Homo sapiens: one gene and its partners. The protein of the gene in region 3 interacts with the protein of the main gene of each other region in a pairwise test. Each region holds a gene or a part of one and is shown on either strand. Other genes may lie near its edges. The genes, in order: NRF1, FNDC3B and TESMIN.

Region 1 (3,753 bases), on a different chromosome or scaffold from region 3:
TTACAGGCTCATAGGCAGAGGGACTTGCCTTGTCTCAGATGAGAATTTGGACTGTGGACTTTTAAGTTAATGCTGAAATGAGTTAAGACTTTGGGGGACTGTTAGAAAGGCATGATTGGTTTTGAAATGTGAGGACATGAAATTTGGGAGGGGCCAGGGGTGGAATAATATGGTTTGGCTCTATGTCCCCACTCAAATCTCATCTTGAATTGTACTCTCATAATTCCCACATGTTGTGGGAAGGACCCGGTGGGAGGTAATTGAATCATGGGGGCAGATCTTTCCCATGCTGTTCTTGTGATAGTGAATAAGTCTCACAAGATCTGATGGTTTTAAAAGGAGGAGTTTCCCTGCACAAGCTCTCTCTCTTTTTGCCTGCTGTCATCCATGTAAGATGCGACCTGCTCTTCCTTGCCTTCCACCATGATTGTGAGGCCTCCCTAGCCAGGTGGAACTGTAAGTCCATTAAAACCTCTTTCTTCCCAGTCTTGGGTATCTCTTATCAGCAGCATGAAAATGGACTAATACAACAGCTAAAGAAGAAAATCTTCTGTCTTTCACAAGCTGAAAGACAGAAGAAACTACACAGAAAGATGATACATACAGAACAGATGGTTAAGAGACATACAAGTGAGGAAGACTAACATAAGTAACTGGAGCCATGGAATGAAAAGAGATGGAATGCAGCAGAAGCAAAATCTCATGGCTAAAATTTCCGGGAGAGGGGGGCAGGCCATGTGGGAGATAATCTTTGAAAGAGTAGCGGTTAGAATGAAATAGCTGAATTCTCAATAGCAGCAATGGAATCCAGAAGACAGTGGAACAGTACCTTCAACATGAGGAAAGAATAACCACCAAGCTAGAATTCCATACTCAGTGAAAACATCCTTCAAGGTTGAAGTTTAAGTAAAAACATTCACAGACAAGCAAAAATAGAACTTGTTACTAGCAGATCCATGTTAAAGCAAATATTAAATGGTGTCTTTAGGCAGAAGTAAAACCATCTCAGGAGACCAGTTGGAGATGCAGGAAAAAAAATTAACATTATTTTTTAAATAAAAATATTGTTCGCTGGATGCGGTGGCTCACGCCTATAATCCCAGCACTCTGGGAGGCCGAGATGGGTGGATCACCCGAGGTCAGGAATTCAAGACCGGCCTGGCCAACAGGGTGAAACCCCATCTCTACTAAAAACACAAAAATTAGCTGGGCATGGTGACGCACACCTGTAATCCCAGCTACTCGGGAGGCTGAGACAGGAGAGTTGCTCCAACCCAGGAGGCAGAAGCTGCAGTGAGCCAAGATTGTGCCACTGCACTCCAGCCTGGGCGACAGAGTGAGACTCCATCTCAAAAAAAAAAAAAAAAAAAAAAAGTCCTGTGGTGTTTAAAATACAGTTGTCCCTTCAAATCCTCTTGAGATTGTTTCTAGCATCTTGATGTGTAGATGCTCAAGTCCCTGATATAAAATGGTGTAGTAGTTTCACATGACCTATTCACGTCCTTCTGTATCATTTCTAGGTTACTAATACTAATATTATAATACCTAATACAGTGTAAATGCTATACAAATAGTTGTTGTATTGGCCTTTTATTTGTATTATTTTTAATTGTTATATTGTTACTTTTAATTTTTTCCTAATACTTTTGATCAAAATTGGTTGAATGTGCAGATGTGGAGCCCACAGATAAAGAGAGCCAACTGTATACCAAAAATGAATACAAAGGACAACAATAGCATATAGGATGGGCGCATGAAATGCAAGTGTTCTAAGAAATTTGTATTATCCCTGTAGAGGTTAAAAGTTCCAAGTACATACAACGTTTTGCTTTTCCTTTTTTTTTTTTTTTTCAACTGGACACAGGCTCTCACTCTGTCACTCACGCTGTAGTGCAGTGGTGTAATCATAGCTCACTGCACCCTCAAACACCTGGGCTCAAGTGATCAGTCATCCCACCACAGCCTCCCAAGTAGCTGGGACTAGGGAGCACGTCACCACACCCAGCTAATTTTTTTTTGGTAGAGATGGGATTGCACTACATTGCCCAGGCTGGTCTCAAACTCCTGGGCTCAAGTGATCCTCCCACCTTGGCCTCCCAAAGTGCTGGGATTACAGGTGTGAGCCACTGAGCCTAGTCAACATAAGGCATTGATAAATAAAGGATGTATGTTACAATTTCTACAGGTATTGATAATAGTAAAAGCTTATAACTTTCAAACTAACAAGAAAAAAATGAAAAAATACAAAATTTTCAATCACTACAAAAGAAAACGCCAAGAAAGAGAAAAGTAAACAGAACAGGTAGGGCAAAGAGAAAGCATATAGAAAAGAAGGTAAATTTAAATCTAAATACATGTCAGTGATTCTGTTTAACGTAATTGGAATAAATGCTTCAGTTTAAAGCCAAAACATAGGCAGAATAGATGAAAAAATAAAACCAAAGCCATAACACTGATAGTAAGTGATTACAGACCTCAAGTCTCAGTATAATACAGGCTCAAGTTATAACTGCAAGGCTTAAAAAAGTTGTGATAAAGGCCAGGCATAGTAACTCACACCCGTAATGCCAATAATTTAGGAGGCCGAGGCAGAAGGATCGCTTGAGCCCAGGACTTTGAGGCCAACCTGGGTAACACAGTGACATTTCTGTCTCTACAAAATATACAAAAATTAGCCAGATGTGGTGGTACACATCAGCAGTCCCAGCTACTCCAGAGGCTGAGATGGGAGAATCACTTGAACCCGGAAGATCAAGGCTGCAGTGAATCATGATTGTGCTGCTGCACCCCAGCCTGAGCAACAGAGTGAGACGCTGTCTCCAAAAAAAAAAAAAAAAAAATTAAAGAAGAGCTTCTAATCCAAACAACACTACCTGCAGCTGCCAGATGAGCTGTCACCTCATCAGCTGCTGTGGAGTTGAGTATATCTGAGTCATCGTAAGAGGTGTCCTCGGGAGAAGAAGGCGAGTCTTCATCAGCACTCAGCATACTATGCTCGGTGTAAGTAGCCACATGGACCTGCTGCACTTGCTGGGCCACTGCATGTGCTTCTATGGTAGCCATATGTTCGGTTTGGGTCACTCCGTGTTCCTCCATGAAGTTCTACTGTCAGACAAAAAAGAAAAAGAACAGGATTCAGTGTGTAATATAACACAATGTTTAAACTAAGAGATATTTTATTCAAGAGCAGAGGAACCTTGACAAAATTCCAATTTCACTACTTACCGTGCCACACCAAGTCACAGGAAATGGGAAGCACCATGCAAATGTGACATAAAAATGACAGAGTGGTGTTCTTACGTGAAACCATTTTGATGGAAATTCGCTGTACTAATTTTATACCTCAGATCACAAAACAACAGATACCCTTAATAATAAAAAGACATTCAAATATAACAATAAAAACATACTTAAGATAGCTCAGTGACTAGCATTTGGCCTTGTGAACATAAGAACACTTAGTAAATAAGTGAAATACTTAACATTTTCTTTGTATGTCAAAGACGAGTGAGAGTCAAATAACTTTTTTCCCAAAAATTCAAATTGGTCTTTCTGCTTATAAAACTGCTTCTTGAGGGCATGGCGGCAAGTGCCTGTAGTCCCAGCACTTTGGGAGGCCCAGGCAGGTGGATCATCTGAGGTCAGGAGTTCGAGACCAGCCTGGCCAACATGGCAAAACCCTGTCTCTATTAAAAATACAAAAAAATTAGCCAGGCGTGGTGGTGGGCGCCTGTAATCCCAGCTACTTGGGAG
Region 2 (3,753 bases), on a different chromosome or scaffold from region 3:
AAATTAGGAGCCAATGTCTAAACTGACACTGAGTAGTGAGTGCCAAGGGCATCAGAAATTCTGATCCAACACTTACAGAATGCTAAACTTGCATATCTTAACTGGGGAGAAACAAAGAAAAATTCAACAATCGATCCATTTTCAAACTGACAAACATCCTCATCTGTATGTAGATGGCTGATCACGACTGTCTATCGATCTTATGTGATTTATACTTGGTGGTTTTAAAAACATTTCTGTCCCCTGATCTTCAACTGGCACCCCACATACCTTCTGTTTCCAAGAACTGGTCCTTGACATTAAACCTGCACCACAAACAAACTCCCCTCCAGGTGAGCTTGTTACTAGGGTCTGGCATCTCACTGGAGGTACCTTGCAAAGTGCTCAACTACCATCAAGTCATCCTTCCAGTTGGGCCTGTGCTTGTCTACCTGCCCCTATCTAGCCACAATAATTCAAGCATTCTCTCCCTCTTTACAACACATAATGCCATAACCATAATATATATTTTAAGGCAAAGTGTATATATATATATAGAGAGAGAGAGAGAGAGAGAGAGAGAGACACTCAGTAAACTAAAGTACAAAGCTTCTCCTCAACCACCTAAGTGAATTCTCAACAGCCTTAAGAGTGAGAATTAATTTACTTGAAAATAATGTCTTACCATATAAATATCCCACTTAATGGATTAACCTCGTTAACAAGAAGAAAAGGCAATTGTGATTTCTAAAGTGGAAAGGCAGGTAGGTTGCAAAGACTCCCCTACACTGAAAATACGATTCTTTTCCATTCTCAGCTGTAATTGCTGAAAGCTCAAGTAATAGGCTAAGGTAACATACAAGGCCTAAAACCTTATTCCTTTATCATTCAGTACTGAACGTTCCTCTAAGAGACTGCACTTTTTCCCGCCACCTCAAAAACAGCCCTGAATCAAGCCTGGCCTGCCCACTTCAGCAACACTAGCCCAGCTACAGACCAGCTTCCCAAAAACACAGATATGGGACAACTTATGTATAGTACAACTTTGCAGAGGTCACAAATCACCTATTCCATTAGGAGTGGGGTAAAATAAAATACAACATCTAAAGCTTGGACCTTGTTTACTGATCACAAAGAGAAAAATAAATCATTTTTCAAACTGTCCAAGCACAATTTGGAGGTCTCTGAAAATGTGCAGAGAAATACCATAGCACCAGCTCAGTTTTAAACTCTGGAATATAATGAACTATGGAGTTTGTATAAGGCTTTGCCAAACACTTCTCAATACACTGACTCATTAATCCCTTGTGACACCATTTGAAAAGGTACGAGTTAGATCTTTCCTCCTTATATTAAAATGAGGAAACCCAGACTCAGAGAGATTCAAAAGCTTATCAAGGACCCAGCTAGAAAGTAAAGTCACTCCTTGACAGAGGAGATATTCTGATTTCAAACTGATGCTCAGATGTGGCCCTCAATTTTTGTCCATCATTTAAACATCTTTATGCCTTAAGATTATAGTACATTTCTCATTTGTATTAAGCACTTGGGGATGTCCTACAAATCAAACCATATGTCATGGGTTAAATCATGTTTCCTATATTTGTCACACTCACTAGGACACTATAATTCTATTTATAACATGGTTCTTATCCTGAAAATAGTACAGTGGTATCTTATCCTTGAAAATAGTACAGTGGTCCCAATGGTCAGGAATGGGTATGAACAGGATGTTTCAGTTATCTGAACAGTCTCAGTAACTGACGCCTTACCTGCAGTTGAATTAACGATTTTCAAAGAGCTGGAAGCAATGTAATTCACATAACACTAAAATAACATAGAACAATTCAAAGATAATTTACAGACATAGGTCCTCCAGGATATGTCTAGAGTTAAGACTATGAACTGCAATTATCCCAGGACAGTACCATAACTATGGAAGATACAATAGATTCAGATATATTTATACTGAACCTGGCAGTTGCCTCTTAAAAATCCTAATAAAAAGAGATTACATTATAATTTGCCTTTTCCTGAGGGTAGCACACCAAAAAAAAAAAAAAAAAAAGAGTTGGAATTTTCACTATTCCATACAAAATCAGAAAGTTGTTGAAATTCCTTTTAGCAAATGAAACTCTAAAATTCAATGAATTTAAATTAAATCCACTAATCAGAAAATGATTTGAACATCTGCCATCGGACAGATCTTTCTTACTGTTTTAATCTTACACATATTCTTCCCAATTCATGGATGAATCCAATGTGTTTGATATTTGATTTCTATACACTGAGAGTAAAAGAATAATTTTAATTCTTCAGGTTACTTCTGCAGCTACATAAGGAAAAGTGAGTAATGGTTTACTGATACTTACAAAGTCTGAAAAGAACTGTCCAATGAACGGATGGACGCGGGTATGAGAGGATCGTTTTTTTCAGCTTTCTATTAGTGACTTTTCATATTGCTTCCTATTTGTACTCTTATTACACTAAAATAACCAACAAGTTCTGACTACTTTTTCAGCAATTCCTATGCACAATTCCTATATTAAACCAAAAAAGATACAATTTAAAGATTTTTCCACCAGTTTTAACTATGACATGTAAACATTGTTTTTAAAACCAAAGAGTTAACAAATAATGTGCGTATTTTATCCACTCTACATATGAAAGCAAAGTTGAGCTATAGCTAACTCAGTCTTTAAATTCCATTTAAGGGCTGAATGTAACTTCTGATATCGTAGAAGAAAGAAAAATGAACTAAGAGATCTAAAGAGCAGTATGCAGCCTGGACAACCTAGTGAGACCTGTCTCTACAAAAAAACAATAATAATAATAAATAGCCTGGCATGGTGGCGTGCACACCTGTAGTACCAGCTACTGGAGAGGCTAAGGGGAGAGGATCACTTCAGCCTGGGAGGTGGAGGCTACAGTGAGTGAGCCAGTGATCATGCCGCTGCACTCCAGCCGGGGTAACAGAGCGAGAGTCTGTCTCAAAGTAAAATAAAGAGCAATATGACCAAGCTACATGTGAAAGATTTGGGAGTCAAAAAGTTCTACACTTTGCTCTCCAATATGGTAACCACTAGCCACAAGTGGAAATTTAAGTTTAAAATAATTACAAGTAAATAAAACTTAGTCCGGGTGTGGTGGCTCACGCCTGTAATTCCAGCACTCTGGGAGCCCGAGGCGGGTGGATCACCTGAAGTCAGGAGTTCGTGACCAGCCTGGCTAACATGGTGAAAACCCGTCTCTACTAAAAAATACAAAAAATTAGCCGGGCGTGGTGGCAAGCGCCTGTAATCCCAGCTACTCGGGAGGCTAAGGCAGGAGAATCGCTTGAATCCGGGAGGCGGAGGTTGCAGTTAGCCGAGACCGCGCCACTGCACTCCAGCCTGGGCTACAGAGCGAGAATCCATCTCAACCAGCAAGGCGGAGGTTGCAGTGAGCCGAGATTGCGCCACTGCACTCACTCCAGCCTGGGCGACAGAGCGAGACTCCATTTCAAAAAAAAAAAAAAAAACTTAAACTGTTGTTCCTCAGTCCACTAGCTACATTTCAAAGACTCAGTTACATGTGGCTTGTGGCTGCTATGCTGGACAGCACAGACAGAACCATTTCCAACACTGAAGAAAATTCCATTGGATGACACCATTGGTAGCTACGTGATCTTATGCAAGTTACTCTCTCTCTGTAAATCTCAATCCCCTTGTTTGTAAAGTGTGCATAACACAACCTAAATCGAAAATACTAGAATTTTAATGAGATAATGTATAA
Region 3 (3,753 bases):
AAAAAAACAAAACAAACAAACAAACAAAAAACAAGAAAAAACAAACAAACAAACAAACACCTCTTGGAGGCAGGAATATGCTGATCTCCATAATCAACTACAGGGCTCAACGAATGGAGAGGGTTGCCCAAACCACTGTTAATACATAAATGTTAACCTGATAATTTCAACCAGCTGATTAGTTTAATTAGCAACAATTATAAACACAAGACAGGCAAGAAATAGCAAGATTATAAACACAAGACAGGCAAGAAATAGCAAGATGAGGTCCCAGATAAGTGCAGCCTATGTCCACCTGGAGATGTGAAGACAGATCATGCATTAGCACCTGCCATAGAGCTCGAGCCAACTCAGCATGGAAGGCAGCGGGCGGAGGCAGCTGGAGGGCACTCTGCAGCCCCCCGTTCATGCTGCATGGCTGCCACACCATTATTTCCACGGACGACAGCAAAAAAGAGAGGCCAGTACAGTTTGAATCAACATGGAATGAAGACAAAGAGCTATAAATGGCAACAAGCCTCAGAAACACCAACATAGGACAGCGGACAGGAGGACAGGGACAGATGCAGGTTATGGGCCAGACTTTCCAGCAGCCTTTGCAGCCCCAGTGAAACCAGACACAGACAGCAACACCGTTAGTGGCATTGCTGATGGTAAAAACATTTCTCAGAAGTCATGAAGGTGTGCAGTGAAGCTCATTTTATAGTATAGAAGAAAATCGTGAACGTATCCAAGAGTCTCTTAAATTATTACATTAGAGTGACAATGTATTGCTTCTAATCCTTACCCAGCCAAAGTTATTTTTGGTGGTCCTGGAAGAGTTGATCCCGAGGGGAAAGCAGACCCGTTGACTACCGATGGTAAGGCTCCCTCAAGCTGTTCAAAGTCAAAGGCAAGGATATTTTGAATTAGCAAGGATTTTTAAAGTTCCAGTCAGCCAGCCCCCTAGATAAAAATGATTCTTTTTTTCCCTAAAGGTTTACATCACCATCCCTTTATAACCATGTCTGGCCTTATTACCACAAGGAATCCACTGACATTCGGAAGGTCTAGTGCTGAGGTGTGTCACAGCCTGTCTGGAAGTGTGCAAAGATGTCTGGAAGTGTGCAAAGATGCAGGGCTGGCCTCCACGGGCTGGAGGCCGTCCATAGCTGTCACTCAGCTGGCCAGGGGTATTGTCATGGAACTCCTTTTCATTTTTATAGACTATCAATTATGAAATAAATTTAATGACAAATTTCCATAAACTAGAAATGTTCTTATACAGATCTTGACATTTGAAGTCTTGTTGGCAACCATGATTTTTCATGTATTCAAAAAAATATTTTGTAACCAGTTTTAACAAATTCAAAAGCAATGTCATCATCTCTGCATTGTCCATGTTCTTTGCTTTCCCAGGTCTCATCTTTCTTTATGTTACTCATTAGCATGGCCTGTGGAGGCTGTTCACAGGGAAAGGAACAGGCAGCAAAGCCATCACTGGCCTACTTCTCTTCTACTCAGTAGCTTGAAGAAATTAACAGTACTAAATACAATTAGGTTTTCAGATTATTTGCATATATCACAATTAAACCTCATATCCTTGTCCCTTCCTCTGTCCAAAAATGGAAATGTATCTTTAAATAAATTTATTTTTAAAGCTTTAAGAAGTATAGTCTTAGAAAAAAAATGCGTCTTGTATTCATCCTCTGCACTTCCTCCATTCTGTGCCCAGTTTAAACTGTGTGTCATCACCATCCATTACGGCTGGAAGACACTGAGAAAGCCTCCTGGGTCCCACTGCCTCATTTACAATCAGTCTTAAGTCCCCAGGCTTCTTCCCGGGAAACCCCTTCCTGCTCTCCTCTTGCTCGTGCACAGAAGGGAGTGCTCACAAGGCCCTGAGACAGGTGTCCCTTTTGCCCTCACCTGGACACCTAATTGTTAGGCCCCTGTCTTCAAATGTCAGTCTGAAGAGTTTTGCATTCTTTTGGAGAAAGGATGTCATAGTTCTCAGGATTGAGGCAATTATTCGCATAAACCAGGTAAAATTACTTTTTTTCCCCCTTTGCTTATTTAGCCCCAAAGTAAAGCAGAGACATCTCTTATGTACTCCATAGGTTGTAAATCCAGGGCAACTTTATGCTGGAATCCACGAGTTTCTTCAGCAATGTTTGGTCCTCTTGGAGTGAAGGAAGTCAACTCGGAGGCAGGGCTTCTCAGACTCTGCTGTGTGCACAAGTCACCTGGGGCCTTTATGAAAATGCAAATCTGATTCAGGGGGTCTGAATCCCAGGTTTGGGGTGGAACCTGAGGTTCTGCACTTCTTAACAAGCTCCCAGGTGATCCCAACAGTTCTGGTCCATGGACCACACTTTGGGTGGTAACACTCCAAAGAATATACAGAACTGGGGTCTGGCAAGGAAGCAAACGATTCTCGAGAAGCAGCAAATGCATTGCTAAAAGAATTGTCCTTGAGGTCCATGCTGGATAAGGGGCCAAAATGGGGACGATAATAAACAGTCAAGGAAAGGTGGGGGAAGGTGGGGAGACAGCAAGTTGTGGCCAAATGGGTGTTTCTCATGGAAGATCTTAGAGGTGAAAGAGCAAGTACAATGTGTGCCTTCTGGACTGGTGGCTGAAACAGCAGAGAAAGGAAGGCCAGCAGCGTGGAGGGGGCCAGACGGTAGGAGGATTCTATGAGGTTCCAACACAGACTGCATCTGCGTGCTCGCCAGATCCCGACTTACACTCACCTCCTGCACTGATAACACTCTCTTTTATCTTGGCCAATGTATCACTTGAGAAGTATTTACTCACTCATTCAACAAATATCTAATTCAATTTACACTCACTTCCTTTGAGATCTCATCTATTCATATGGCTTTCAACGCCATCTATACACTAGGACTCCCAATCTCATCCCTCCTGCCCAGCCCTTCCTCACTCTAAACTCCTACGCAACATCTTCTGAGGCATCCCAAATTTAATATATCCAAACGGAACTCCTGGACGCCTTTGAAAAACTTGTACCATCTCATCTTTGTTGATGGAAACTCCATCTCTCCAATCATCCAGGCTGAAAACCTTGGGCGCATCCTTGACTCCTCTCTTTCTCTCACATCCCACATCCAATCCATCAGCAAATCCTGTTGACTCAACCTTCAAAGTATCCCTAGAAGCTATTTCTTGCCACCTCCACTGCCACCACCTGATCTGAGCGATCATCTCTCCCCGAGATTATTGCCATAACAGGCTCACCGTTCTCCTTGACCCCTCCTCCCCACCAGCCCCTCTTTAGAGTGGAAGCCATAATCCTCCCAGTGCCTTGACTTCCTCCCTGCCCTGCTCCCCTAGCTCACACTATCCCAGGCCCAGTGGCCTCCTCGCTGCCACCACAGCAGGCATGACCCTATCCAAGGCCCGCCTGGGATGTTCCACAGCTTGCTTCACAGAGCTCATTCCCTCATCTCTTTAAAGGCTTTGCTCAAATGTCACCTTCACAACGGAGCCATGATCACCTTTTTTAAACCTGCAACTAGGCTTTTTCCCCATCAAATCCCCATCCCCCCAATCCGCTTCCTCTGCTCTCCTAACAGATGATGTAATTGGCTTCCTATTAGATTTGCTAATTGTCTATCTCCTGCAGTAAAATGTAAGCTGCAGGAGGGCGGAGTTGTGTGTTTTGTTTTCTGAGGTTCACTTACCTCACAGATCAGTGCCTGCCCTTATTGAAGGGTGAGTGGGTGCCCTACATGGGCCAGGCTTTGTGCT

What was found.
Region 1: the proteins of TESMIN (region 3) and NRF1 interact in binary tests that used the Homo sapiens proteins (3 or more experiments, as listed by UniProt).
Region 2: the proteins of TESMIN (region 3) and FNDC3B interact in binary tests that used the Homo sapiens proteins (3 or more experiments, as listed by UniProt).

The regions. Positions count from the first base shown.
Region 1 is NC_000007.14:129,656,695-129,660,447, reverse strand, and holds part of NRF1 (nuclear respiratory factor 1), read right to left. Parts: intron 3,106-3,753; exon of another isoform or gene 3,103-3,105; 5' UTR 3,097-3,102; coding exon 2,874-3,096; intron 1-2,873. UniProt on the Homo sapiens protein: Transcription factor that activates the expression of the EIF2S1 (EIF2-alpha) gene. Links the transcriptional modulation of key metabolic genes to cellular growth and development.
Region 2 is NC_000003.12:172,042,578-172,046,330, reverse strand, and holds part of FNDC3B (fibronectin type III domain-containing protein 3B), read right to left. Parts: intron 1-3,753. UniProt on the Homo sapiens protein: May be a positive regulator of adipogenesis.
Region 3 is NC_000011.10:68,737,913-68,741,665, forward strand, and holds part of TESMIN (tesmin), read right to left. Parts: intron 877-3,753; coding exon 788-876; coding exon of another isoform or gene 784-787; exon of another isoform or gene 1-783.